Homo sapiens: one gene and its partners. The protein of the gene in region 3 interacts with the protein of the main gene of each other region in a pairwise test. Each region holds a gene or a part of one and is shown on either strand. Other genes may lie near its edges.

Region 1 (4,142 bases), on a different chromosome or scaffold from region 3:
TCACTACAACTTCCGCCTCCCAGGTTCAAGCAATTCTCCTGCGTCAGCTTCCTGAGTAGCTGGGATTACAGGCGCCTGCCACCTCGCCAGGCTAATTTTTTGTATTTTTAGTAGAGGCGGGGTTTCACCATGTTGGCCAGGCTGGTCTCGAACGCCTGACCTCAAGAGATCTGCCTGCCTCGGCCTCCCAAAGTGCTGGGATTACAGGCCTGAGCCACTGCGCCCAGACCAAAAGTTTTTTTAAATGGATGTTTTACAGATAGAACTAAATTCTTCATTTACCTCACTTAATTTCTGAAAACACTGTGTCCTCCAACTGCTCTGTATTCCCAAAGATTAAAATTAGCCTTGGGGAGCAGAGCTGGTTCCTCGTAAACCCCTGTGAGTGCCCAGACCCTTTGGAGGAGGTTCTCAGTGGGCTTTTGCCTGCTCCCACAGATGTAACCCACCCTTCCTGCTGCTCCTAAGACCACCATGAGGAAGGCTGGGAATTGGCTCTTGAATTAATTTGTTGGTATTTTTAAGAATAGCTATTAAAGTACTGTTGTTAATTTTCCCAAGTCTATTTTATTGTTAGTATTTGTCACATTTTCTTTGTAAACAGTGAATTAAAAATATTTTATAGGAATATTCATTCTTATCTAGATTTCCTACTTATATAAAAAAACAAGTGAATGAGATTGTTACAAAGGGTAATTTTGTGTGAGTAGAATAATAAAAGTTGAAATTGAGAAGATGCAATGTTTTAGACTGAAACTGATGGTTGGTTTGTTTTCCCCTTCTTTCTAACAGGCCTTATTCCACTGCTGGGGATTGATGTGTGGGAGCACGCTTACTACCTTCAGTATAAAAATGTCAGGCCTGATTATCTAAAAGCTATTTGGAATGTAATCAACTGGGAGAATGTAACTGAAAGATACATGGCTTGCAAAAAGTAAACCACGATCGTTATGCTGAGTATGTTAAGCTCTTTATGACTGTTTTTGTAGTGGTATAGAGTACTGCAGAATACAGTAAGCTGCTCTATTGTAGCATTTCTTGATGTTGCTTAGTCACTTATTTCATAAACAACTTAATGTTCTGAATAATTTCTTACTAAACATTTTGTTATTGGGCAAGTGATTGAAAATAGTAAATGCTTTGTGTGATTGAATCTGATTGGACATTTTCTTCAGAGAGCTAAATTACAATTGTCATTTATAAAACCATCAAAAATATTCCATCCATATACTTTGGGGACTTGTAGGGATGCCTTTCTAGTCCTATTCTATTGCAGTTATAGAAAATCTAGTCTTTTGCCCCAGTTACTTAAAAATAAAATATTAACACTTTCCCAAGGGAAACACTCGGCTTTCTATAGAAAATTGCACTTTTTGTCGAGTAATCCTCTGCAGTGATACTTCTGGTAGATGTCACCCAGTGGTTTTTGTTAGGTCAAATGTTCCTGTATAGTTTTTGCAAATAGAGCTGTATACTGTTTAAATGTAGCAGGTGAACTGAACTGGGGTTTGCTCACCTGCACAGTAAAGGCAAACTTCAACAGCAAAACTGCAAAAAGGTGGTTTTTGCAGTAGGAGAAAGGAGGATGTTTATTTGCAGGGCGCCAAGCAAGGAGAATTGGGCAGCTCATGCTTGAGACCCAATCTCCATGATGACCTACAAGCTAGAGTATTTAAAGGCAGTGGTAAATTTCAGGAAAGCAGAAGTTAAAGGCAAAATTGTAAATCAGTCGAGATCGGGTGCCTTCAGGGTGGTATGGCTGTATACCAAAATTGTAAATCACTACATGAAGCTTATATATTGGTTTGGCCTGAAAGGTGAAGTGGGGTAGGCAGGGGGCGGGCTTACAGGTTATGGTGGATTCAAAGACTCCCTGATTTGTGATTGGTTAAGGAAGCAAAGCTTTGTCTAAAAACTTGGGGTCCGCAGAAAGGAACATTAAGGTCTGGCCAGGCCCCTCAGGAAGAAACTGAGAGCAAAGAATGGAGGTCAGAGTTTAGTCCCTGGTGTTCCCCCTTATCTGACGTCTGTGTGAATCCATTTGGTGGGGGTCTGGGTTTCTGAAAAGTAGCTCAGGGGCACGTGTTAAGGATGTCTCTAGGTGACTCTAACTTCCCTGGCTATTGTTTGAAACTGTTATGACCTTCTTGCTTATCAGCTTGCTGGTTTCCTTCTCGGGGCGAGCTGGGTGCCTGGAGTTTTCGGTGAAGGAAACTCAAGATTCTCCTTTATTTCTGTGCTTGTGGGAATCCCCCTGGCACACCCCAAAGAGGGGTCCCTGCTCCGTCTCACAGGGATCTTTTTGTATATTTGGCTTAGCATCATACATTTGCCATGTTGTTTCATCATCTGCCTAATTTACTGTTTTTGAATATTTCATTTGTTTCTAATTGTTACTACAGATAATGCTGGGGTGAGCAACTCTGTGTACATAGGTTTATCTCCTATTGGAATATTTTCTTTATATAGGCGTTTTTTTTTTTTCTTTTTTTTTGGAGACAGAGTCTTGCTCTGTTGCCCAGGCTGGAGTGCAGTGGCGCGACCGGAGCTCACTGCAACCTCCACTTCCCGGGTTCAAGTGATTGTCCCACCTCAGCCTCCTGAATAGCTGGGATTACAGGTGCATGCTACCATGCCTGGCTACTTTTTGTATTTTTAGCAGAGACAGGGTTTCACCATGTTGGCCAGGGTGGTCTCGAACTCCTGACCTCAAGTGATCCGTCTGGCTCAGCCTCCCAAAGTGCTGGGATTACAGGTGTGAGCCACTGCACCTGGCCTATATAGGCTTTTTTCTTAAACCTATTTAGTAATGTTTTCCCAAGTTTATTTTTTATTTTTAATTTTTTCCCCAAGTTTATTTTTCTATTTTTTTTTCATGGAAAAATGGGGTAACTTAGCAGTTTCAATATTGAAGACTGAAGTTTAAAAAAAATTTAAATTCAAGGTACTTTTAAAATTCAGTTAGAAAAGTAGGCTTTAAAAATTATTAGAGACAAGAGTACCAAAGCGGTGTGTGTATGTGTGTGTGTGTATGCATGCTTGTGGATTGGAAAAACTTTGGAGACTGATTACTTTTCATTATATATGTGTCACAGTGAAACAGCTTTTATGTGTCATGTAAGATTACTGCTTGCCTCTCTAAGGAAGGTCGTGACTGTTTAAATAGACGGGCAAGGTGGAACCTTTTGAAAGATGAGCTTTTGAATATAAGTTGTCTGCTAGATCATGGTTTGTATTGAACTAACAAGGTTTGCAGATCTGCTGACTTATATAAAGCTTTTTGATTCCTACTAAGCTTTAAGATTTAAAAAATGTTCAATGTTGAAATTTCTGTGGGGCTCTATTTTTGCTTTGGCTTTCTGGTGAGAGAGTGAGGAAGCATTCTTTCCTTCACTAAGTTTGTCTTTCTTGTCTTCTGGATAGATTGATTTTAAGAGACTAAGGGAATTTACAAACTAAAGATTTTAGTCATCTGGTGGAAAAGGAGACTTTAAGATTGTTTAGGGCTGGGCGGGGTGACTCACATCTGTAATCCCAGCACTTTGGGAGGCCAAGGCAGGCAGAACACTTGAAGGAGTTCAAGACCAGCGTGGCCAACGTGGTGAAACCCTGTCTCTACTAAAAATACAAAAATTGTTTAGCTCTGTTTTTCATAATAGAAATAGAAAAGGTAAAATTGCTTTTCTTCTGAAAAGAACAAGTATTGTTCATCCAAGAAGGGTTTTTGTGACTGAATCAGCAGTGCCTGCCCTAGTCATAGCTGTGCTTCAAAAACCTCAGCATGATTAGTGTTGGAGCAAAACAAGGAAGCAAAGCAAATACTGTTTTTGAAATTCTATCTGTTGCTTGAACTATTTTGTAATAATTAAACTTTGATGTTGAGAAATCACAACTTTATTGTACACTTCATTGCAACTTGAAATTCATGGTCTTAAAGTGAGATTTGAATTTCTATTGAGCGCCTTTAAAAAAGTAATACCAAACCATAAAGTTAAAATCTATGTATATTGAGTCATATCTAAAACCACGTATAAACATAAATTGTATTTCCTGTTTTAATTCCAGGGGAAGTACTGTTTGGGAAAGCTATTATTAGGTAAATGTTTTACAAATTACTGTTTCTCACTTTCAGTCATACCCTA
Region 2 (4,142 bases), on a different chromosome or scaffold from region 3:
ATGTGCCTTGCCAACATTCAGAAACATTAGAACAGGCCAGGCGTGCTGGCTCACGCCTGTAATCCTAGCAACTTTGGGAGGCAGAGGCAGGAGGATTGCTCGAGGCCAGGAGTTCAAGACCAGCCTGGGCAACATAGCAAGACCCCACCTCTATGAAAAAGAAAAAAATTAGCCAGGTGGTGTGTGCCTGTGCTACCTGGGAGGCTAAGGCAGGAGAACTGTTTGAGCCCAAGAGTTGGAGGATGCAGTGAGCTATGACTATGACTGTGCCACTATACTCTAGCCTGGGTGACATAGAGAGACCTCATCTAAAAAAAAAAAAACAGAAAAGAAACATTAGAACAGTTCATCTATGCCCTATTAATATGACATTTTTTAAAAAATCATGACCCTCAGAGAATCATGACAACTGACATCAAATACCCTCATAGGGAATGTACACTTCCTACTGAAAATCACTGATAACCTATCTTCTCCTATATCAATCCATCGAGCAATAAGAAATATCCTATATATCCCCTCTCTCTCTCTCTCACACACACGCACACACACACACACACACTCTCATGCCTTAAACACGAGGACATAAACATGCACACACTCTCTCTCACACACACACAAACACATACCACAAACACGGGACTCTGCAACAGATTCCTAGAGAAAATTTTCCACTTTTCCTCACTCAATTTCCAGGTTGAAAATCACTTTACATCTCCACACTCTGACTTAGTAGCCTTAAAATGTAAAAACCAGACCTGTCAAATGTAAAATTAAGGCAAATCATAAAATCTGGTACCCAGAAGAGGGGATAATTCAGGCCCCATCTCATTGTTGGGAGTGGCGATGCCGGTATAGCTTTGACATTCTCACCACCTTCTCTGCACCACACAGACGACAAAACTCAAAGGCAAATGTCAGCCTTTTGAGTTTATCAGTCTTCCTCCTACACTGGAGTTTTAATATACTCATAACGATGTAATAAAAAACAACCAGCCCTGCCTGTTTAAACTCCCTGAACTTCAGTGTCTTCATCTTTATTGTTTTAAGAATAATAACACCTATGGCAGCCATTCTTCCCTTCTTCCTAATAGAAGCAGGATTCTGTAAGATTTGGAGAAGAGAACTCCTGATCTCTGGGAAGGTAGGCTGAGCCACCAGCCCCTCCCAAAGATGTCCATGTCCTAATCCCCAGAAATTAAATATATATGTTAACTTACATGGCAAAAAGGATTTGCAGCTGGGTGGACCCAATCTTAGAACAGGAATCCTTAAAATCAGGGAACCTTTGCCAACAGGGGTCAGAGATACAACAGAAAAAGAGGCAAGAGATATTCAAAACACGAGAAGGACTCGACCACCATTGCTGGCTTCGAAGACAGAGGAAGGGATCCACAAGTCAAGGAATGCACATGGCCTGGAGGAACCAAGAAGTGCCCACACCTGACAGCCAACAAGGACACAAGGTCCTCTGTCCTCCAGACACAAGCAACTGAACTCTGCCAGCAACCTGAATGAGCAAGAAAACAGATTTTCTCCAGAGCCTCCATAAAGGAGCACAGACCTGCTGACATCCTGATGGAGCCAGTGAGGCCCATGCTGGACTTCTGACCTCCCAAGCTGTGAGATGACAAATGTGTGCGGTTTCAAGCCATGCCATTTGTGGAACTCTGTCATGGCAGTAAGGAAAAATGAATCCCTGGGGTAGGCATGTCACATGGCTCTGGTAAAGGGATGGAAGGGGAGTCAAGGGATGAAAGGAGAGCTCGGGCAAGACACTAGAAGAATGCTCACCCAACATGCCCTCTGCATCCTGCGTGTGAGGATGCGGGTGTGTAAGGACCTGAGGCCTGCTAGTCCTGCATCATCCTGCAACTGTGGAAGATGCTCAGGAAGACAGCAGGGCCTGCCATCACTGAGCCACTCAGTGAACACCAGCCATGGCCTCCCTCCAGGTACCTTATTATGAGAAGAACAAACCCAGCTTGTTTAAGTCCCACTTAGTCAGGTGTTATTACTCCTAGCAGCATTTCTAACGGACAGAACCACCTTCTTGCCAGGGGTGTTTTCAGGGTCAACTAAGACAACATGAGAAGCATGGAATAACATTCAGGCACCGTAAAGTGCACAGTATGTGAGCTTTCCCTTCCCTGTACCACATCAACTATGACTTAAAAGCCTGCTCTAATTTATCAAATAAAATATCACACCACTATGAGAGACTTCTCAAATCCTTTGTTTCCAAAAACACAGAAATCTCCTTTCAAGCTCCCCACAGATACGAGTCCAAATAGAAGCTATTTTCACAAAATTCCAAATAACACAACTCTCTCTTATCTCTTATCTAATCCCATACACTAAATCTAACATCTGCAACTTTTCATGCCCGAAATCTGCACGAGTTCATTAATTAAATGAATGAGATGTCCACTCATTCATTTAATCAATGAACATTACAACATGCCTACTCTGTGGCAAATATGCCTAACAGGATGGAGGCATAACGCCTAGGGGGAAGAGGGGAAGAGAGAGCAAAAAGGTGACAGTGACAGAAAATAAAATGGAGATGGAAGAAAGAAAAGAGAAGTGAGCATGTAGAAATAGTGGTGGAGTCTGTCATGGCAATGAGCACGCCGGCTGTAGCACCACAGGCGCCCCGGCCCTGGCAGCATGTGCTCTAGGAGTCCTCCCTCCAGCCCATTAAGGGTGACAATGGCTCTCCCTTTCTGCAAAACTAGCCAATATGCATGGGCAACTTCGTAGGGTTGGTGCTCTTTTGGTCAAGGATACACTTCGAAGAGACAAACTCAAATTCTTCCTTATTTTTCATTTTGGAGAAAACACACACACACACACACACACACACACACACATACACATACACACTACAAACTGCATAAACTAGTTACATGTGAAAGCTTATGAAACCACCAGTACTGAGACTACCAGTATCATTAAAAATGTAGAATAGGCTGGGCACAGTGGCTCACACCTGTAATCCCAGCACTTTGGGAGGCCAAGGCAGGAGGATTGCTTGAGCTCAGGAGTTCGAGACCAGAGTGGGCAACATAGTATGACCTCATCTCTACTAAAAAATAAAAAAAAATTAGCCAGTCATGGTGGCACGTGCCCCGTAGTTCCAGCTACTCAGGAGGCTGAAGTGGGAGAATCACTTGAGCCTGGAAGATCAAGGCTGCAGTGAGCCACGATGGTGCCACTGCACTCCAGCCTGGGTGACAGAGCGAGACCCTGTCTCAAAAATAAATAAATAAAAATGCATTATAAAAAGATATTTTAATTAACCTACTGCACTCTTGGCTTTTAGCTTTTTAAAACGGCTTTTGTCTGTAACAGTGATTCTCAACTGGGGGTGATCTTTTCCCCCCAGGGGACATTTGGCAATATTTGAAGACATTTTCGGTAACCACAACTGGGGAGGGGTACTACTGGCATCTAACAGGTAGAGCCCAGAGATGCCGCTAAACATCCTACAATGCATAGGGCAGTCCCCACAATCAAGAATTTATCCAGCCCCAAAGGCCAATAGTGACAACGCCGAGAAGCCCTAGTCTACAGCTTGTCTGCTACTTCAGACCTACCACCTGATCCATGGGGTCACTGGAGTAGTAGTTTTCTGAATGAGTGCATCGAATCCACACAGGCTTAAGAAGTTCTTCTTCTTCCTCCTCATTCTTGTCAGGCATGGTCTCCTCGGGCTCTTTTTCCTTGATTGAGGTATAGTTCTTGTCTTTGCCAGAACTCTGGTTGTCACTCCAACGGTCTTTTTCTTCCTCCCAACGAGCTCTCTTCTTCTCCCTACTTGGGGAGCGACTTCAAAAGAGGGCAAAGGAGGTTAATTATTAAAAATACTCTTCCACTGTAAAAACTATTCTATTTCACCTATTTGGTGCATTTTTCACCTAAAATATGAATACCATGCCAAATCACCGTGTGTACTTTTGTTAAACCAGTGACTCCCAAATACCAGTCTGGTGGCATCAGAATCACCTGAAGTTTACTTGTTTAAAAATACAAATTCCCAGGCCCCACCCCAGATCTACTTACTGATTCACAATCTCCAGGGGTGGGGCCCAAGAATCTGTATTTTTAATAATCTCCCCAGGTAATTCTGGTGTGCATCC
Region 3 (4,142 bases):
TTCCACAAAACCTTCATTCCTCTCCCCTAGATCCCCAGGAAACCTACAGGGACTATGTCCGCAGGAAATTCCGGCTCATGGAAGACCGCAATGCGCGCCTAGGGGAATGTGTCAACCTCAGCCACCGGTACACCCGGCTCCTGCTGGTGAAGGAGCACTCAAACCCCATGCAGGTCCAGCAGCAGCTTCTGGACACAGGCCGGGGACACGCGAGGACCGTGGGACACCAGGCTAGCCCCATCAAGATAGAGACCCTCTTTGAGCCAGACGAGGAGCGCCCCGAGCCACCGCGCACCGTGGTCATGCAAGGCGCGGCAGGGATAGGCAAGTCCATGCTGGCACACAAGGTGATGCTGGACTGGGCGGACGGGAAGCTCTTCCAAGGCAGATTTGATTATCTCTTCTACATCAACTGCAGGGAGATGAACCAGAGTGCCACGGAATGCAGCATGCAAGACCTCATCTTCAGCTGCTGGCCTGAGCCCAGCGCGCCTCTCCAGGAGCTCATCCGAGTTCCCGAGCGCCTCCTTTTCATCATCGACGGCTTCGATGAGCTCAAGCCTTCTTTCCACGATCCTCAGGGACCCTGGTGCCTCTGCTGGGAGGAGAAACGGCCCACGGAGCTGCTTCTTAACAGCTTAATTCGGAAGAAGCTGCTCCCTGAGCTATCTTTGCTCATCACCACACGGCCCACGGCTTTGGAGAAGCTCCACCGTCTGCTGGAGCACCCCAGGCATGTGGAGATCCTGGGCTTCTCTGAGGCAGAAAGGAAGGAATACTTCTACAAGTATTTCCACAATGCAGAGCAGGCGGGCCAAGTCTTCAATTACGTGAGGGACAACGAGCCTCTCTTCACCATGTGCTTCGTCCCCCTGGTGTGCTGGGTGGTGTGTACCTGCCTCCAGCAGCAGCTGGAGGGTGGGGGGCTGTTGAGACAGACGTCCAGGACCACCACTGCAGTGTACATGCTCTACCTGCTGAGTCTGATGCAACCCAAGCCGGGGGCCCCGCGCCTCCAGCCCCCACCCAACCAGAGAGGGTTGTGCTCCTTGGCGGCAGATGGGCTCTGGAATCAGAAAATCCTATTTGAGGAGCAGGACCTCCGGAAGCACGGCCTAGACGGGGAAGACGTCTCTGCCTTCCTCAACATGAACATCTTCCAGAAGGACATCAACTGTGAGAGGTACTACAGCTTCATCCACTTGAGTTTCCAGGAATTCTTTGCAGCTATGTACTATATCCTGGACGAGGGGGAGGGCGGGGCAGGCCCAGACCAGGACGTGACCAGGCTGTTGACCGAGTACGCGTTTTCTGAAAGGAGCTTCCTGGCACTCACCAGCCGCTTCCTGTTTGGACTCCTGAACGAGGAGACCAGGAGCCACCTGGAGAAGAGTCTCTGCTGGAAGGTCTCGCCGCACATCAAGATGGACCTGTTGCAGTGGATCCAAAGCAAAGCTCAGAGCGACGGCTCCACCCTGCAGCAGGGCTCCTTGGAGTTCTTCAGCTGCTTGTACGAGATCCAGGAGGAGGAGTTTATCCAGCAGGCCCTGAGCCACTTCCAGGTGATCGTGGTCAGCAACATTGCCTCCAAGATGGAGCACATGGTCTCCTCGTTCTGTCTGAAGCGCTGCAGGAGCGCCCAGGTGCTGCACTTGTATGGCGCCACCTACAGCGCGGACGGGGAAGACCGCGCGAGGTGCTCCGCAGGAGCGCACACGCTGTTGGTGCAGCTGTAAGTATCCCTGGGGTATCCCCTGGGGCTGCTTAGGTTCGTGTGTTTTTTTTTTTTTTTTTTTTTTTTGCTCTGTTGCCTAGGCTGGAGTACACTGGCGTGACCTCAGCTCACTGCAACCTCCGCCTCCCGGGTTCAAGAGATTCTCCTGCTTCAGCCTCCCAAGTAGCTGGGACTACAGGTGCACGCCACCACGCCCACCTAATTTTTGTATTTTTAGTAGAGACAGGGTTTCACCATGTTGGCCAGGGTGGTCTCGATCTCTTGACCTCGTGATCTGCCCGCCTTGGCCTCCCAAAGTGCTGGGATTACAGGCATGAGCCACTGCACCCGGCCCACGATTTTTTTTTTTTTTTTTTTTTAAACTAAGTCTCTCTTGGTCTCCTAGGCTGGTGTGCAGTGGCGCAATCTTGGCTCACTGCAGCCTCTGCCTCCCGGGTTCAAGCGATTCTCCTGCCTCAGCCTCCTGAGTAGCTGGGATTACAGGTGCCCATCACCATGCCAGGATAATTTTTGTATTTTTAGTGGAGATGGGGTTTCGCTGTGTTAGCCAGGCTGGTCTTGAACTCCTGACCTCAAGTGATCCACCCACCTTGGCCTTGAGGTTCATGCTCTTAACCAGTGCCTCTCAGCTGGGGGTGATTTTGCTCTGACATTTGGCGATGTTTGGAGACACGTTTTTGGTGGTCACAACTGGGAAGCAAATAATACTACTGACATCTAGTGGATAAAGGCCGGGAATGCTGCAAACATCCTACAGTACACAGGACAGTCCCTCTGGCCCCAAAGTGTCAATAGTGCCACAAAGACTAAACAACACCCATTGGGACTAAATTGAGGTCGATGTCTGGGAGAATTTATTCAATCAACAAATATTACTAAGTCCCTTTTTCTTGAGAGAGTGTGGCTCTGTCACCAAGGCTGGAGTGCAGGGGCACAATCTCAGCTCACTGCAACCTCCACCTTGCGTGTCTCAGCCTCCTGAGCAGCTGGGACCACAGGAGTGTGCCACCACACCCAGCTAATTTTTGTATTTTTTTAGTAGAGATGGGGTGTCACCATGTTGGCCAGGCTGGTCTCAAACTCTCGGCCTCAGCCTCCCAAAGTGCTGGGATTATAGGTGTGAGCCACCACACCCAGCCTCTATATCCCTTTTATCGGTGGACCCAACAATCTTCTGTAGACAGAAGACTGTGTGAATAAGCCAATGGTCCCAAGAGAGCACGCATCCTAATGAGAACGGAGACAGATAATAAAGAGGGAAACAAGTAAACCAACTATCAATGATTAGGAGCGTCAGATAGAGCCAGGTGCAGCCTGGACAACATGATGAGATCCCCATCTCTAAAAATATAAAATAAATTAGCTGGTCATGATGGTGCACACCTGTAGCCCCAGCTTCTCAGTAGGCTGAGGTGGGAGGATTGCTTAAGCCTGGGAGGTCAAGCCTACAGTGAGCCATGATCTCACCATGCACTCCAGCCTAGACAACAGGGCAAGGCCCTCTAAAAAAAAAAATGAAAAGATAGCATGCTTTGGCCGGATGTGGTGGCTCACGCCTGTAATCCCAGCACTTCAGGAGGTTGAGGCGGGCAGATCACCTGAGGTCAGGAGTACGAGATCAGCCTGGCCAACACGGTGAAACCCCATCTCTACTAAAAATACAAAATTAACTGGGCGTGGTGGCTCATGCCTGTAATCCCAGCTACTCTGGAGGCTGAGGCAGGAGAATCGCTTGAACCCAGGAGGCGGAGGTTGTGGTGAGCTGAGATTGCGCCATTGCACTCCAGCCTGGGCAACAAGAGCGAAACTCCGTCTCAAAAAAGGATAGCATGCTTCATAAACGGTGAAATGACATGCAAAGGCCATAGTTGTCAAGCACCAGTAACACCAGAGAGTGGCCTGTCTTTCCTTCAAGCAGACCAGAGAGGACCGTTCTGCTGGACGCCTACAGTGAACATCTGGCAGCGGCCCTGTGCACCAATCCAAACCTGATAGAGCTGTCTCTGTACCGAAATGCCCTGGGCAGCCGGGGGGTGAAGCTGCTCTGTCAAGGACTCAGACACCCCAACTGCAAACTTCAGAACCTGAGGTGAGTGCAGGCTGGTCTGGGCGTTTCAGGTGGTCCCCACCGTGGCCTCTCATGGGGATCAGTCACAAAGGTTCTATCACGGGATGGTGTATTCGTTGGCTACGGCTGCCATAAAAAAGTGTCACAAAGCCAGGTGCCGTGGCTCACGTCTGTAATCCCAGTATGTTGACAGGTGAAGGCGGGCAGATCACTTGAGGTCAGGAGTTTGAGACCAGCCTGGCCAACATGGCAAAATGCCATCTCTACAAAAAATACAAAAATCAGGAGGGTGTGGTGGCGGGCGCCTGTAATCCCAGCTGCTTGGGAGGCTGAGGCAGG
Region 4 (4,142 bases), on a different chromosome or scaffold from region 3:
CACATCCACTGGATGCATCTAGGTCTCATACAGCACTAGAAACTTTGTCTGGCAATGCACCATGATAATTATTTCATCATGCATGTTCTGGACCAAGCTCAGTGTGCTTCTGAAACACGACTCAGCAGTCTCCCTGCTTACCTGTGGAGAGGTGACGCTACAATCCAGCAGGTGGATAGTTCTACCATCCTGCATTATGGCTTGGAGCTAAGAGGGGATCCAGGACAGTTTGGTGGGTCCTCTAGGCCTCCACCAAGAAACATTGGTTAAAAGCATCTAAGGGAGAAAGGCCCCAGCCACAGGGAAGGTGGCATCTACTTGTGCTGTCCTACTTGGTTACTTTCACACTTCCAACTTACATAGAAGACTCTGAATCTCACTTAAGTCTGTACTCTACCAAGTGAAGAAAGACCATCAAGACAAAAGGAAGTCAAAGTAAAGTTCTCTCACTGTTAAGACTCAGTGAGAGAAGGACAAGAAAGACACCTCCTCACTAAGGCTGTGGGAGGTAAGAAACTTTCCCAAAACAAAGAGAAGAATCATATTTGAATCTTTATTTGCATGACACCGGAGTTTATTCTCTCTCCTGTATATACACACTACTAAGAGAATCTGTCCTTCTGAAGTTGGGTCAGACTGCTTTTTTGTGTAGCAAGCCAGAATTCACTTATTTTCTGAGTCATCTGTAAGATGACATTTTCTCCTAGGTCCAGTAAAGATAAGGCACAACCTAGTGACCAGAGCATGAGATATAAGGTCTGGCGCCAATTCTTTAAGCACGTGGGCCAGTTATAGCCCATCAGTGTCTCCAATTTGACATGAAGATGACAATTTAACCAAGGACTACCAAGTGGATTACTGTTTATTCAATGTGTTGGATAAGACACTTGGAATTAAGATGAAAAGCTGCATCAACCGCAAGGAAGAAAAATCTGGAGTACCTGGTCAGCCCAGCCCTCTGTCTTGCAGTTACTATGATCAAATTCCTTCAAAGGCACTTTGGAGTGAACAAGGCCTATGTGGGTCTGGAGCTTGTGCTTGACGGTTTTGATGTCCTAGTGAGGCAGAGACAGATCAGAAATGCAAATACATTTGGTTAATTCTTACTTGTTTTCAGTAGTAAATAAAGACCATCATAAATACCAGCCCTTTCTAAATACCAATTAGCACAGGCAAAATATCAAATTGTTGAGTCTAGAAAAATGAGAGAAGGAACCAAAAGTCTTACCTTGAGCCCTGTCCCAGAGATATCTAAGCAGTTTAGTTTCCTAAAAGAAAAGAGGTATCCAATGCCTGCATCTGTGATCTCAGGGTTACCTAGATGTCAAAAACAACGTAGCATTCTGTCACAATATAAATGCTGTTAAAATGACAACCAAAAATAAGCTCAGAAAAACGTCCGGGCAATGATAAACTATAAAACATTTGAGTTGGCAAACTTTTCAAAGTAAATTAAATACAGAGGTCTGATCTTTACTATTTGTAATATAAAAGAGCCACACTCAATGATCCCTAAAGATCCTTTACAGCTCTTACTTTCTAGGAGTTGGGGGTGAGCAGAAAAATAAATGAACCAGGTAGTTATCCCAAAGGGTTTAATTTGGAACCATATGAAAACATACATAAACATGTATTACAATGGTTTATCATACTTTATTCATGGCCATTTCACCTCCAAAGTAAAAGCATTTATTTATTTTAAAAAGATATTCAAGGGAACTTAGACACAGATACTATCACCACTCTTACCAACTTGCATTATTTTCAGAATCCTTTCTTATATATTACTTTCTCACGTCAGAGAGTACTACACTTAGCATTGAGTCCTCAAGGCCATAAGCGTAGTGCCTGGCACATTGTAGATGCTCAAAAAATATTTGTTGAATGAATACACTTCCCTGGGAGGTAGGGAGGACATTCATTATTTCTTTTTTTTTTTTGAGACAGAGTCTTGCTCTGTCACCCAGGCTGGAGTGAGTGACGCAATCTTGGCTCACTTGCAAGCTCCGCCTCCCGGATTCACGCCATTCTCCTGCCTCAGCCTCCCGAGTAGCTGGGACTACAGGTGCCGGCCACCACGCCCAGCTGATTTTTTGTATCTTTTTAGTAGAGACGGGGTTTCACTGTGTTAGCCAGGATGGTCTTGATCTCCTGACCTCGTGATCTGCCCGCCTCGGCCTCCCAAAGTGCTGGGATTACAGGCGTGAGCCACCGCGCCCAGCCAGGACATTCATTATTATCCTCATTTTACAAAGGCCAAAACCAATGCTCAAAGTGGTTAAATAACTGGTCTGAAGGTATATAACTGGTAGTAAAAGTGGTAGACCAAGAAGGGTCCTCAGACCTCAAACCACTGCTCTTTCTATTCTTTTGGCATCATACTGTCCTGCCATAGAGTCAATGGATGCTCGGTTAAATTGTAAATGATCTCTGTCAACCTCTTACCATTGGAGTCAATATCTGGTTAATCTGAGTAAATTATCCGTTCATCCAGCTTTTCATCAGGCAAACACTGATAAAAAAGGACCTAGCTGACAGACACCAAGGATCAGAGACTCAAGGAAAATAAAGATGAGTCAAATGTCCTTTAAGTATGCAATGAATATGATGAAAGGTGTCTCTGTTTGCACACAGCGAGTGGCATGGATGAATGTGTAAGGGTTTTTCCTACCCTAAAGAGGTGGTATGTGCTAGAAAAATCAGTTGGCCAGGAGTCAAGAGTCTTTGGCCTCAATCCTGTTCTGCCACCAAGTTTCTATGGCACCGAGGAAAGTCACCTTTCCTTTCTCACCTCTAAAATGAAGAGGAAGAACTACATGATCTCTAAGGCCATTCTTCCAACATTAAAATAATCTATAATTTCGAAGAAAACTTACATGATAAGTCTAATAATGTTAGATTCTCAAGGCCTCTTTTCATCACTCGAACTGGTGCTGTCATCTTCCGCACCCCAGCATCAGATAAACAATTATCCTTCAGGTGGAGCTGAGTTACACTAGGGAAACAAAGTACATACATAAATTACTCAAAGAGAGTTTGAGACAATCTAGGTATAAAAACATGCTTTCAACATTTTCATTTAAAAATATAACATATCCTCTACCTCTTGCTATTTCATACCCAATGCATTTAACAAAGTTAAGCTCTTTTGGGCTGGGCATGGTGGCTCATGCTTGTAATGTCAGCACTTTGGAAGACTGAGGCTGGAGGATCACTTGGGCCCAGGAGTTAGAGACCCCATCCCTGCAAGAAATTTTAAAAAATTAGCTAGCCAAGGTGCTGTGTGCCTGTGGTCCCAGCTACTTGGGAGGCTGAGGCAGGAAGATGGCTTCAACCAAGGATTTCAAAGCTGCAGTGAGCTATGATTGCACCACTGCACTCCAGCCTAGGTGACAGAACATGACCCTGCCTAACAAAAAAAAAAAAAAAAAGATTTTTTGGTGCCATTTCAGTTACCAAGTGAGAGTTAATTTAGTGTCATGCAGTACTAATTTCAGAGGGCAGAGGGCACTAAAGGTATATTGTTGAATGAGGTAAATGGACTTCCACTAGGGGATAAATATACTTTAAAACAAAAGCTGCTTTTCTGACAAATGGTGTGAAAATCAAAAACATTCTAACTATGTCAGGAAAGTCTGCTAAAGAACTCCTATGAGAATTATTTTTGCAAAGCAAACAATCCTCTAAATTTAACCAGCTTTATCAATCTAGATTTTCAGTTTGGGTTAATAAGGTATACCCATAATCCAATCCATCTGATGCTAAGCTGGAATTGGTATATTAATATGCTCCGTTTTCACATAAGAAATCTGAGCCTTGATGCTGGCTAGCCTCACACAACAGCATCTTTTTATGGGGCAGTAGGTAGGTGTCACTGTCAGAAGCAGGCCTCAGGTAGTAGGTTAGACCTAGGTTTGTAATGCTGTTGTTCTTCTGGGTGTTTATAAAACCACAGAGGGATCCATCTGTCCTCCTCTTTGCTGGCCAGAATAACCTGAGATCAGTCAGACTATTTGTGAATGGTATGAACTGGGCCATTTCTTTAAATCATGACTCCTGAAAAGAATTTCTTTGGCTGTCTTTAATAGTTCATTTTCTTTATAATTGTAGCTCATTGATAGTTAAAGTAGCAAACGATAATG
Region 5 (4,142 bases), on a different chromosome or scaffold from region 3:
TGCCCCCATGATCCAATACCTCCTACCAGGCCCTACCTCCAACGCTGGGGACCACATTTCAACATGAGATTTGGAGGGGACACACAGCCAAACCATATACTGTGTTTCCAACAACAGAATAAAAAGCTTTACCCCATGACAAGGATTTCAGACCAAAAGGCTGGTGGATGAGGTGGGGGCAGGGTAAAGAGGAGAGTCCCAGGGTCGGACATCAAATTGTGGAAGTAGGTGTCCACCTCTGAGGCCAGCCTCTTAATAAACTGGAGAAGAAAGGAAGGCTGGAGCTCCCTAGAGTTTCACCGGGAACCTGCCTGGACAGGAGCTTCCATTTCGTCTGGGCTGTGCTTGGTGGGTGCGTTCCCGACCCTCAGAGCGCCCTTGTGCATGTTAGCCGAGGAGTCAGGGCCAAGCCTGTGGACAGCAAACCAGTCTGCACCGCAGACCTATGAAAGTCCTACTGTGGAGACACAGCCTGAAAAATGCCAATGCCAAGTCCTTCTGGAGTGAGAGGACGCCAAAATAAAAGGACTTAGTACAGAGGTCATTTAAAATAATACACTGTAATCAAGTAGCTATGTGATAGGACATTTAAAAATCTCAGTTGAGAAGAAAGATGGAACTAATTTTCTCTCTAGTACAAAACTGGTGACTAATGTTCAGCTGGAAATGTCCAAACAGATTTAGGGACATTAATAACCAAAAATTATGTTTGTGCATTTATTGAATAGGAATTAAATGACTTGCCTTGAGGACAAAGCGACTGTGGCAGAGGAGAAGTCAGGGCTCACATCATCTCAGGCCTTTGATTCCGGTCCCCTGGGCCCTTGCCTTGTGTGAGACCGCTGGCCCTTTGGTGATCATGGGGCCAGGCCTCTGCGTACCACCTCCACCGATCCCCGTGCAGCTGCCTTGGCGGCATCATGCTCCCCACCGTAAAGACTTGGGCTCACACTGGGCCAGGGGAAGTCCCTTGCCTTGTCCAGAGCCTCAGTCTCATGGGCCCCCATCTGATCCCAGTCATTCTGCTCCTAAGTCCTTTCCCTGAGCCCCAGGCTGTGTCACCTCCCTTGAAAATAAAGCCCCGTGGCTTCCACTTGCTGCTGGTATTCAGACAGAGTAAAATCATGGCAGGGAAGGCCTCCGCCACTTGGCCTCCTCCACTGCTACCTGGACAGGCTCCTACTCAGTTCTATTACCTTCATCCATCCATCTCTCCATGTCACATACATGCACAGAGTGAGCTCTGAGCTCCAGGCATTGTGGGACTGGCTGTCCATCCCTGGGAGCTGACGACAGAGTCATGTACCTGCCCAGGGCGCTCACACCAAATGCTATTGTTCCCATGCTAGCCCTTCCATTGGATCAAATGTAGTGTAGCTGGCACCCAGACCTGGGATCCAAACAAGTTTTCCTATCAATTCTTTACTCTCCACCCAACAAACACTAACATCAAAGCACCTGCCCAAAACACGTTTGGTTTTTAGCACATAACTAAGAATCTTTTTTTTTTCTTCAAACATTTCCCTACTCCCTGCTGGACTTTATATTTGTTTTTGGGAGAAAGATTTCTCTGCCCCTTTTGTTACTTGTTACAATATACATAATGGACCGGATTAACTGAACATTCTTGATTGCATTTGAAAGATATTTTTAAAAACAGATGCCCTTTTAAAATATTTTATCTGGCCCCTATTTCATTGGGAATCAATATAAAAGGATATGTTTATTTTTCTGAAATATATTGTTAAGAATTTGTATTTCTTAAGCTCAATCAAAGCCTCTGAAGTATTCATACAGTTGAAAGAAAGATGTGGGGCCCACATTTCTGGCTGTGAGCAGGGTGTTGTTAACAGTTCAAAGGCTGGGCACCACATCAATACTCCCCACATGGAACACCTGGACAGGGCAGACCATGATGGGTATGACTGGGAAAACAGCAGCCAGAGCCCAGGGAAGAAAAGGAGGCTGCCTTCATAATCCCCAAACCAGGGGTCTCCTAGCCCACATCCAGCAGCGAACGACCCCGCAACTGCTCATCTGTGTCTGCTCAAGGATTGGTAACATTCGACCAACTCTTATTGCCTCAGGTATGGCTGATCTAAAATCCCAGCCATCTAAAATATCATCCAGCACTCTGCTTTTGGTGAAAAAAAAAAATCCTAGTGACAAAATAATGAGAAGTTAATCCTCCAAAATAAACTCTTGATATGTCTAGGGCCAGTACCTAAAATTGGCAGCACGCTACATGTACCCACGGGCCTCTCCTCACTCTCTCTAGATTTGGTGTCCAGAGCAGAGAGACACGTGGCCCAAATGCTGAGCCAAGAAACAGGAGGCCTCCCTGCCTGGGATCCAGCCTTGTACGGAGTCAGCAGCCCTTCCTGCCCAGTGGTGGGGAAGGGGTGAAATCGGGCGGAAGTGCAGCAGCTGTGAGGGGCCCAGAGATGGCCCAGGACAGCCCCTTTCTTTGGATAAGCAAAGTGAAGTTCTGAGAGTTTCTAGGGTAGGCCACAGCTTCCTAGCTTTATGTTCTGGTCTAGAAGCTGCTCTCTTACCCTGATTCCAGACACCTGATTCTAGGCCACACTGCTTCTCAGGGGTGGGTTTCGTTTGCTTTTGCAGTGCCTCACACCCAGCCTGGTTTAATTCAGGCCACGAGCCTGGTTAATGTGCACAGCAAGTTGCATTTCTGCCTCATCGATCACTGGAGTCAATGGTGCATATTGAAGAATGAATGCCTTCATGGTAAGTGATAACATTATGGGATTAAAATACTTAATCACGCAAAATTTACATAATAATCATTTAGATTGCCATGCAAAAATTATCTGGCATGCCACACCACACTGATTTGACCTACTGATCTGGATGATGCACAAAAGGTATCTATCTATTTGTATGGTTTTTGGCTTGGTTCATGTATTCATTCAAACTTCATTGATTCTTTTTTTTTCCATGACAGGGTCTTTCTCTGTCAACCAGGCTGGAGTGCAGTTGTGTGAACATGGCTCACTGCAGCCCTGACCTCCCAGGCTCAGATGTTTCTCTCACCTCAGCCTCCTGAGTAGCTGGGACTACAGGTGTGCACCACCATGCCCATCTAATTTTTTTGTGTTTTTGGTACAGAGTTCCATCATGTTGCCTATGCCGGTCTGGAATTCCTGGCCTCAAGTGATCTGCGTGCTTCAGCCTCCCAAAGTGCTGGGATTACAGGTGTGAACCATTGCACCCGGCCTCAAACTTCACTGATTCTTACATGTGCAATGCACAGCATTAGATGTTGTAGGGGAAAGATAACCACAGTTTACTGCATACCAGCCAAGCGGCCTGTCAATTATATGTATCCTATGTCCCCCTCACAGCAGCAGCCCTGGGAAGTAGCGATGATTACTCCCATTCTAGAGAACACTGAAGCCTGCATTTTGAGTCATTTAGCCAAGGTCACACCAGAGTCAGAACTTGACTGACTGAACCCAAAGTACATGCTCTCAGAGACACACCCTCCACCCTTAAAGCACTGGCTGCCTAGTGGAGGAGATAAACTACTTGAGCAAGTGAACTGGAAATCAAAGTCAAGTCCAGTAAGTGCTTTAGGACAGGCAGAAATAACGTTCTATGGAACCAAGAGTAAGAGAGATTCCTCTCAGGTAGGGGAGCCAGGAAGGCTTTGTGGAGACTGAGACTTTTGAGGTGGGCCTTGAGGTATGGGTAGGAGTTTCTAAGATGGAAATAAAGGGGAAGGAGGCTGAGAGCAGGGAGCTGAGTCTTGGGATCTGGAAAGCTTTGGGAGCTTTATGGAAGACAAAGCCATTGGGTCAGTAGGAAGAAAGCCAAAAGAAAAACTAGAGATGTTCTTAGAACTGTAGTTTTCTTCCCAAGTGATATTCAAATATTAAGAAGGCCAGTCTTTACCCTAATGGATACATTCATTCCTGCTTTGGCAACAGAACTTCTGTGAGGGTGACTCAAATGTTATAAATGAAAAAGACTTGTCTAGCAAGGGAATACGGGGCAGCTTCGATCCTGTTCCCTCCCTGCTCCCAAGCCTGCCTCCCTGGGAGGTCACTTGGGGTGTCTCTGGTCCAAGCCAGCAGTCATTTTAGCAGGTGAGTCCAGCATCTCCAGAAGGGCTGGCCACATGA
Region 6 (4,142 bases), on a different chromosome or scaffold from region 3:
GTCACAGTGTCTGGCAAGGAGTGGATGCTCAGTGAATGTTGGTCTCTTCTCTTAGGACGGCTGTATTTCAGCAGATGAGGAGATGGGGTGCAGTGGGGCACTGAGCCTGAGCTGCTGAGCTCTCAGGCCATTGCTGCGTCTGAGACCTCGTGGTGCCATTTGCATCCCTGGGGGACCAAGGTCACTCTGGGACGGGGTCCCTGCCTTCTCAGCACTTACAGCCCACCTGGGTGAAAGATGAACTAATGGATGAAAAGGGAAAAGGTGAAAAAGTGACAACATGAAAAATCTTCAAACGTTCAGCAGTTCAACTTTTTGTATCTGCTGTTGCCAGGCTGGAGTGCAGTGGCACAATCATGGCTTACTGTAGCCTCAAACTCCTGGCCTCAAGCAGTCCTCCCACCATGGCCTCCAAAAGTGCTGGGATTACAGGATGAGCCACTTCTTCAGCCTTCTTTTTTTTCTTCAATTAGATATAACTTACAGAAAAGGGCACCGATCTTAAATACATAGCCTGAAAAAATTTTGACATATATTTATACCCATGTAACCGCCACCCAGATCAAGACAGAACATTTCTGGTTGTGAGGCATCTGTGGGCTTCCCTGTGCCAACCCCCTCCCAAAGCCAGAGGAGATGCCCAGGCTTACATTGGCCACCAGAGACTTGCTTTGCCTGTTTTGAGCCTCATATAAATGGAATCATATAGTATGTACCGATCAGTGCCCTTTCCCTGGCATTCTATCGTGAGCATTAGCACATATCATTTAGTAGTCTCCAAAAACAATAGCCTCTTGGAATCCAGTTGTCCAGAGCCATTGTTGCTTAAACCAGACTCCAAACCCTTCTCAGGGACAGGCCCTGGGTGGCTCTGGTGAAAAAGACAAGGACTCTGCCCTTGTGGGACTCCAGTCTAGAGAGAACAAGCACTCAACGGAGCAGGGGACCCGGTGGCAGAGGCTGGGCTGAACAAGGGCAACAGGTGTGGGGCGGGCTGATGTCAGCCCAGCCCTGGGACCTCCAAGCTGTTAAGTCAGGTACAGGTTGTAGCGGGTCAGGGTGGGTAGAAGGTCTTCACCACCCAGTGGCACCCAACTGGCCAAAGAGGCTCTATGACCAACAGCACCGTGGTGTGTTTTGAGGAAGGCAGGAGGGAGGCTGGAACCAGCCTGGGCCTGGGGGACCTCTGAGGAAAACCTCTGGCCCCGGCCTTGCCCAGACTTTATCTCATGTCATCCTAGAACTGCCTGTGGATAGCTACGGGTGTCCCATTTCCTGGGGCAGAAACTCTTGTCCAAAGGCACCCTGTCGGGCAGAAGGGCCAAGGTGCTCCCAATTCCCAGTGGGGACTGCGTGGGGACATCTGAAATTGATGCCCTCAGCAGACACTTCCAGAAGAGAGAGGGTGGACCTGGGGCTGTCGGGATGAGGGTAGTGGGCTGAGGGATTGGGGTGGTGGTGACGTAAGGGGAGGCCTCTTGGGGAGGGGCGTGGGGTGTGCTTGGGTCCAAAGCTAGAGGTGCACTGCAGCACCCTGGCGGCTCCTCGCCTGTGCTCTGCGCCTATGCTAGGCTGGGGCAGAGCCACGGCGACGCGTGAGTTTCCGGTTCTCCCACTTGGGGCCCTAATCTCAGGCTCTCCATTTCCTAATGTGGAGGAGACACTGGTGCCCACCTGCCAAGGCAGTTGAGAGGAATAAGAGAAGCTGTGTGGGGGGTCCCTGGCATCTCGCCCAGAGCCAGTGCGTGTGTGAGGAAGGAGGGCTGTTCTTTACCCACGGCCACTCCGAGAGCCAGGCACGCGTCGGAGCTGGGCCAAAAGATGAGAATTGTGTCCCCAGCCCACGAACATGCTACACGGCCTTGGACAAGACCCTCCCATTCCTGATCTCTCCTCCCGTTCTGTGCAGTGGGAGGCCTTGAAAGAGGAAACCGCTAGGGAGCCTCCTCTCTAGGCTTCTGAGCAGATCTGATAGGGCCCTGGGACAGAGGGGAGCCCCGCAGACTCTGGGAGGGACTCCAGCTCCCATAGCCAGGGTCCTGGTCCAGCCCTGGAGACGGGATAATGGGGATGGGAGGCAACTTTTGAGCCTCTCCTGTGGGTCAGGTGTGTCACTTGCCTTATCCGGCCCAGTCCTTAGAGCGACCCTGAGGGGATGATGCCAGCAATGTCATTTAACAGGGGAAGAGACTGAGGCTGAGGGAGGTGACAGAGCTAGTACTTGGAGCAGCTGGGGGTTTTTTGTTTGTTTGTTTTTGAGACGGAGTCTAGCTCTGTCACCCAGGCTGGAGTGCAGTGGTATGATCTCAGCTCACTGCAACCTCCGCCTCCCGGGTTCAAGCAGTTCTCCTGCCTCAGCCTCCTGAGTAGCTGGGACTACAGGTGCACACTGCCACGCCCAGCTAATTTTTCATATTTCAGTAGAGACGGGATATCACCGTGTTGCCCAAGTTGGTCGCGAACTCCTGAGCTCAGGTGATCTGCCTGCCTCGGCCTTCCAAAGTGCTGGGATTACAGGCATGAGCCACCATGCCCAGCAGCTGGGGTTTTAATTGAGGTCTGTCTGGCACTAAAGCTGTGGATTGGTTGCTGGACACACACACACATGAGAAAGAGGGAGAGAGAAAGAAGTGTTCTTAGTTCTCATTTTATCTCAAAACCATAAAGCCCCAGCCAGAAGTCACTATCAGCCAAGAGGGATGGAGGGGGCGATGAGAGATGCAGAATGTCGTCCTTGATAACTAATCCTAACAAGAGTGAGATCACCTGGCTCCTTTAAATTTGACATATTAAGCAAAAGGCAAGCTTCGCTTTCCAGCACTGCTATTAAACCAAGTCAGGTTCCTGCTGAGCCTACTTTAATGAATAAGCTAAGCAGAGTTGATAATTGATGGCTGGCTATATCAGGGGACCCCTTCTGCTGGAAGGAGTTTGTTGAATAGGTTAAACATTACTCTCTTAATTGTGCTAGCACAATTCATTTGCTGCCTTAGCAGCTCATCTCCCTACTGGGTAGAAGGAATGAGCATGGGCTTTGGAGCGAAACCCAGCCCTGCCAGTGTCTGCCTGTGCTGTGTGGCCTTAGGCAAGTTGCTCGTTGTCTCTGAGCCTTGGTTTCTTCATTCTGAGATGTGAGGAGAAGACCCCAGGGTCCACAGGCTTTTCTGGAGGATCTGGATGGCACATATTTATAAACCACAGATGTGTTGTCTGGGTGGGCAACTATTGCACCCACCTCCAAGTTCAGGCATTCCAGCCTGAGCAATCAGAAGTGGGGGGATCTGTACGTCTGGAGATAGGAGGCTATCCTTACCCCGCCAAGTAACTGCCTCTCTCTGTGTTTAGAGAAAGAGAAAGACCCCAAGTACTGGCGAGACCAAGCGCAAGAGACACTGAAATATGCCCTGGAGCTTCAGAAGCTCAACACCAACGTGGCTAAGAATGTCATCATGTTCCTGGGAGATGGTGAGGCCCAGGGGCCTGTGGGAGGGGTGGAACAGGACACCTAGCTAGGAGCCCCGGGAGCCAGGCTGAGTTGAAGGGGGCTGTGTTGAAGGGGCTAGGGCTCTGGAGGAAGGGTGTTTAAAAGGATGAGGGGCCAGGCTGTGGATTCAAGAGGCCTGCTCTGCCAGACAGCCCCCTGAGGATCTGGGGGTGAAGGGAGAGAGGGGCTGCTCACTGACATTTACAGAGCCATGCCCAGTGCCAACTGCCCGAGCCTGCCTTGGTACCGAACTAGAGAGCTTCTGGGTACCCAAGCAGGCTGATTGGAGAGGCAGGAGCACGAGAGACTGAGGCCCCCACTCCCCACTGCAGGGATGGGTGTCTCCACAGTGACGGCTGCCCGCATCCTCAAGGGTCAGCTCCACCACAACCCTGGGGAGGAGACCAGGCTGGAGATGGACAAGTTCCCCTTCGTGGCCCTCTCCAAGGTGAGCCCCATCCCCAAGCCCAGTTCAGGTCTGTATATCCAGTATCCAGGTCGAGCATCTGAACATGACAGCAGCCAGAGGTCCCCTGACCCCCTGAGCCCCCTCCATGCCCAAGCCCACTCCCCACCTGGAGCAGCCACTGCCCTGACTTCTGACACCATAGCATCACTGTACCTGCTTGCGGGTGTGTGTTTAGAGAGAGGGTCTTGC
Region 7 (4,142 bases), on a different chromosome or scaffold from region 3:
GGAGAATGGATTGCAGGAGGGCCAGAGAGGGAACAAGCCAACATACCAGAGGGGATTCTTTTAGCATTCAGCAGACACGAAGAGCGAGGGCATGTGAGAGAGACAGAAACTCTCTCTGGTTGGGACTAGAGTAGGGGAAAGAAGATGTAAAGGAGAGGATGAATTTGGGTGACATCCTGGAGCACAGGAGGCTGGACACAGCTGAATGTCTTGTATCAGAGGCAGGCTGTTTTGCAATAGTTGGCCAAAATGACAGATGGACAAGAAGCATAAAAATGGGAGGCCAAAAAGAGAAAAAGAGTAGGCACATGGGGCTACGAAAATGGGAATGAGGGTATGGTTGAAAAGTTATGATAGTAACCCTGGAAAGATGGCTGGACTAGAGGCTGGCACTTCACTAAGCCATTGCAGGATGTTATTTAGCAGTTATTTGGAAGCTCTGATACTTCAAATTCTATAGTCAGTACATAAACTTTTGATAAGTATGAAATATTTGAATGGATAAAAAAGTATATATTCAAATTAACTTATAGTTTTGGTAAGAGATCTTAAAGCTATTCTTTAATCCTTACTGAGGGCCTATATATTTTTTGTAAGTTATCAGGGGGAAGTGAGTTTAGCTTGCTTTCTTTTCTGTTTTAAATTGACCTAGAAATTCTTACTAGTTGGAAAAATGCTTTATTGTAAGGCATGTGAAACACTAAGCATATTACACAAAACTGTGAATGACACTCAGGGTATATTCTAGTCCCTTCCCTCTCAGATATAAAAGACTTCTTAGACTCTGGCTCAAGAACCATAAAACTTGGAGAATTTGCCTATTTTTTTTCTTCAAATAAGACCTCTTGGAATGCAAGAAAGCATTTACAATTTCCTGTAAGAAGAATTCTATTTTCTAATAAGATGGTGGTATTGATGACTTACTAAAAAATTAGGTTATCTGAAAAAACCTTTTCATTGCTCTCCATTTATTCCACTGGATTTTAAATCTCACTGATTACTTCTTTGAAAAGATTGGAAGAACATACTAGTCATTTTTCATCATACAGCTGTGTTTGGATCACCAGCTGCATATCAATTTTTACTGAACAAAAACACATTAAAAAACAGGTGCCAAGGCATACTGTTGAAATTTTGATAATTTATATTAAGGGTAAAGGACACCCTTAGGCAGGAATTATCTTGCAACTAAGATAACCTTTTTATAAAGGAATTAATAAAAGTGAAGAGCATGATTCTACAACCATGCAAAAAAGAGCCTTTAAAAATTTGTGCCTTAGCAAAGGATATTTACATTTGCAAACTCACCAATACACTTGATGCCGTTTCCAATCCAGCCTTCTCTGCAGCTACACTTGAAGCTTCCTGGGATATTCAGACATGAGGCATGCATGTCGCAGTTATGAGCACCAATTTCACACTCATCCACATCTGATAAACCATAATTCATAAGAAGAAAATCAAAATACAAACTAATTAATTCTACTTCCAAGTATATTTTTGTATAGGTAACATTTTAAAGTAAAGATGCAACCGTATGGAGAAAAGAGTAGCCTAACTAACTTTTATTTTTAATTTTTGTAGGCTCCAAGAGGACTTGGAAAATTCATGATCCTAATAAAACAAGTTCTTCCCTAGAAACAACTGTCAGCCACTTTCCAGTAGAAGAGAGAGAGACACAGCAGTGTTGCTCCCCGGCAGGTATGTGTATTATCCTGGGGCCTTCTTCCCTGCCCAGATTCAGACACAACACCATAAAGAGGACATTCGATTACAGATCAAGAGAAATCTTATTTCCAATAATAGATGGTGCTATTCCTTCCTATTGATATTTATTACATATTTTTCATGAAGATAAGAATCTAACTTTTTAAAAAAAGTAATAGTTTATTCTCTTTAAAATTACATGATCATTTGTCATTTAAAAAATCAATATAAATATTTTACAGAATTTAAAAAAAACTATTCATTTAGGTGTATATTTTTATTTCTTCTACTTATTTGAGATTATAGAAAAATATTCACTGGGAATGTTATCTGGAAAGTAGCCAGATGCTTTCGCCAGTGTGTGTGTGTGCGTGTGTGTGTGTGTGTATTTGTGTGTCTGTATACACACACACATATCCCTATATATGTATGTATAACCTATGTAGATTTGGTTCTCCAAAGCTTTCTTGACTATAAATAGTAATGTGTTCTATCTAGTTCAACGATTACATATTATAGATGCTGAAATCACACACACACACACACACACACACACACACACACACTACTGGCTTCACATCAACCCTGTCAGTGGTGAACATGCAAAGAACACCTTCTTTTATAATCTGCCCCTTACTGGAGGGGTCAGCTTAAGGGCTGGGTTGGACTCTTAAGTCTTCCACCACCTGCCTTGAAAAAATATCACACATAAGTCTTAAATTGTGCACTGAGGAATACGTGATCCAAAACCTTGACCCCGGCACATCCTAGCCCCACCTGCATGCAAAAGGCTAAAACTAGTTAGTAGTAGTAGTAGAGAAAGGGAACAAAAGACAAAGTGAGCAAAGTGAGCAAAGAAGGAAAGTGAAGAGAGGAAAAAGAGAAAGGCAATTTGGGCACAGAGAAGAGAAGACAAAAGCAAACAGAAGAGCAAACAAGAAAGGAAAAGATGGGAGAAAGGAAGAAAGGGAAAGAGTCTCAATGAAACTTGATTAATTTTTACTAGTTTAAAAGAAGTGCAGAGGTAAATGGCAACCGGGATCCTCGGGTCTTTTGGTGCTCTTTGTACATGAATGTCTTCCAAGCGGGCAGCAGTCATACTCAGAAAGTGACTGATGCTGCATGAACGACCATAAGTGGTCAGGGCCATGGGAACCAGACTGTACTCCTACTCACTCACTCTGTCACAGCCCACAGCCAGCCCCACGGTGGGTGGCTCAGACAGCGTGCTACCACAGAGACCAGCCAAATCCATCACACATCCTATAGGTCACACACTCATCACACACACAGTCACAGTCTGGTGGCAGGTAACCGCTCTAAGAGATGCCAGAGAACAAATGATGTTGAAAGTTGGCCTTTGACATCTGAGAAGTTGAAATACAGAGAACACAAGCTTGAAACCTACCTGTACATCCTGTGGTCCCCTTCTTCACTGAGTAACCCAGCTGACAGTGGCAAATGAAGGATCCCTTTGTGTTCTCACATTCCCCAAACATGCAGATATTTGAATTTAGGTCACATTCATTGACATCTAGAAAATTTATTTTCAATATCTTAGTATGTGCTCATCACAGTAATTTAAAAGCTATCTTCTACACTGAATAGCATAATACTGAAATACACAGGCAAGATCTAAAATATAATCCATCCGCAAATCATCGTGTTATAGATAAATATACAACCTGCCTTTAGACATTTTTAAAAGTAATTCTTCCTGAGATTTTACAGTTCTAGTAAAATGATTTGAATTTTTAAAATAACAACAGAAAAAGCCTTCCTTTTATCACGCTTGTGTGTGCATGTGGGTGTGTGTGCATGTGTGTGTATAAATGTTTATCCTTTCTTATGATACCCACCAATGCATGTTTTCATGTCCATGGAAGCCATGAAGCCATCATAGCAGAGGCAGCGATACTCTCCAGGAATGTTGGTACACTGGCCGCCATCACAGATATCAGGATTGTTTTCACATTCATCAATGTCTGATGATACAAAATTAGCATCAAATGAAAATAAAAATGTCGTTCATCAATCTCAAATGTTTTTGTTTTCTATCTGGTTCCACTTGGTAATATCTGGAGCCATATTTTCAAGAAAAAATTAGTTAGATGTACAAAACCTGTGTGTTTTCCTTTCTATACCTGCACACGATCTCCCATCTGGCATCAGGGCATAACCCTCACTGCAGCTGCATTCGTAGCTTCCCTCTGAATTTGTGCACTGGGTGTCACAGCCTCCGTTCATTATCATACATTCATCAATATCTGTGAAAACAGCATTGCAACCACATTGTCAGGTCTGCTTCCTTAAAAGGAGTTTTCTTCTTTTTAAACAGATAATGCTAATGTGGCTTTGAATTTTTCTCCCCACTATGTGTGTTGATTGAACATTATCTTTCTTAGTTCTTTCACCTTCATTTTAGGCAGCATTCC

The links.
Region 1: the proteins of NLRP12 (region 3) and SOD2 interact in a two-hybrid assay, tested with the Homo sapiens proteins (one large-scale study listed by IntAct).
Region 2: the proteins of NLRP12 (region 3) and DROSHA interact in a two-hybrid assay, tested with the Homo sapiens proteins (one large-scale study listed by IntAct).
Region 4: the proteins of NLRP12 (region 3) and LRRC42 interact in a two-hybrid assay, tested with the Homo sapiens proteins (one large-scale study listed by IntAct).
Region 5: the proteins of NLRP12 (region 3) and PTPRE interact in a two-hybrid assay, tested with the Homo sapiens proteins (one large-scale study listed by IntAct).
Region 6: the proteins of NLRP12 (region 3) and ALPL interact in a two-hybrid assay, tested with the Homo sapiens proteins (one large-scale study listed by IntAct).
Region 7: the proteins of NLRP12 (region 3) and FBN2 interact in a two-hybrid assay, tested with the Homo sapiens proteins (one large-scale study listed by IntAct).

The regions. Positions count from the first base shown.
Region 1 is NC_000006.12:159,679,289-159,683,430, reverse strand, and holds part of SOD2 (superoxide dismutase [Mn], mitochondrial isoform A precursor), read left to right. Parts: intron 1-792; coding exon 793-938; 3' UTR 939-4,142. UniProt on the Homo sapiens protein: Destroys superoxide anion radicals which are normally produced within the cells and which are toxic to biological systems.
Region 2 is NC_000005.10:31,511,389-31,515,530, forward strand, and holds part of DROSHA (ribonuclease 3), read right to left. Parts: coding exon 4,066-4,142; intron 3,832-4,065; coding exon 3,600-3,831; intron 1-3,599. UniProt on the Homo sapiens protein: Ribonuclease III double-stranded (ds) RNA-specific endoribonuclease that is involved in the initial step of microRNA (miRNA) biogenesis.
Region 3 is NC_000019.10:53,807,177-53,811,318, reverse strand, and holds part of NLRP12 (NACHT, LRR and PYD domains-containing protein 12), read left to right. Parts: intron 1-30; coding exon 31-1,732; intron 1,733-3,650; coding exon of another isoform or gene 3,651-3,653; coding exon 3,654-3,824; intron 3,825-4,142. UniProt on the Homo sapiens protein: Plays an essential role as an potent mitigator of inflammation. Primarily expressed in dendritic cells and macrophages, inhibits both canonical and non-canonical NF-kappa-B and ERK activation pathways.
Region 4 is NC_000001.11:53,959,209-53,963,350, reverse strand, and holds part of LRRC42 (leucine-rich repeat-containing protein 42), read right to left. Parts: intron 2,996-4,142; coding exon 2,877-2,995; intron 1,318-2,876; coding exon 1,229-1,317; intron 1,056-1,228; coding exon 942-1,055; intron 1-941.
Region 5 is NC_000010.11:127,909,895-127,914,036, reverse strand, and holds part of PTPRE (receptor-type tyrosine-protein phosphatase epsilon isoform 1 precursor), read right to left. Parts: intron 1-4,142. UniProt on the Homo sapiens protein: Isoform 1 plays a critical role in signaling transduction pathways and phosphoprotein network topology in red blood cells. May play a role in osteoclast formation and function.
Region 6 is NC_000001.11:21,557,281-21,561,422, forward strand, and holds part of ALPL (alkaline phosphatase, tissue-nonspecific isozyme isoform 1 preproprotein), read left to right. Parts: intron 1-3,345; coding exon 3,346-3,465; intron 3,466-3,816; coding exon 3,817-3,932; intron 3,933-4,142. UniProt on the Homo sapiens protein: Alkaline phosphatase that metabolizes various phosphate compounds and plays a key role in skeletal mineralization and adaptive thermogenesis.
Region 7 is NC_000005.10:128,331,604-128,335,745, forward strand, and holds part of FBN2 (fibrillin-2 precursor), read right to left. Parts: intron 3,975-4,142; coding exon 3,852-3,974; intron 3,693-3,851; coding exon 3,567-3,692; intron 3,242-3,566; coding exon 3,116-3,241; intron 1,432-3,115; coding exon 1,309-1,431; intron 1-1,308.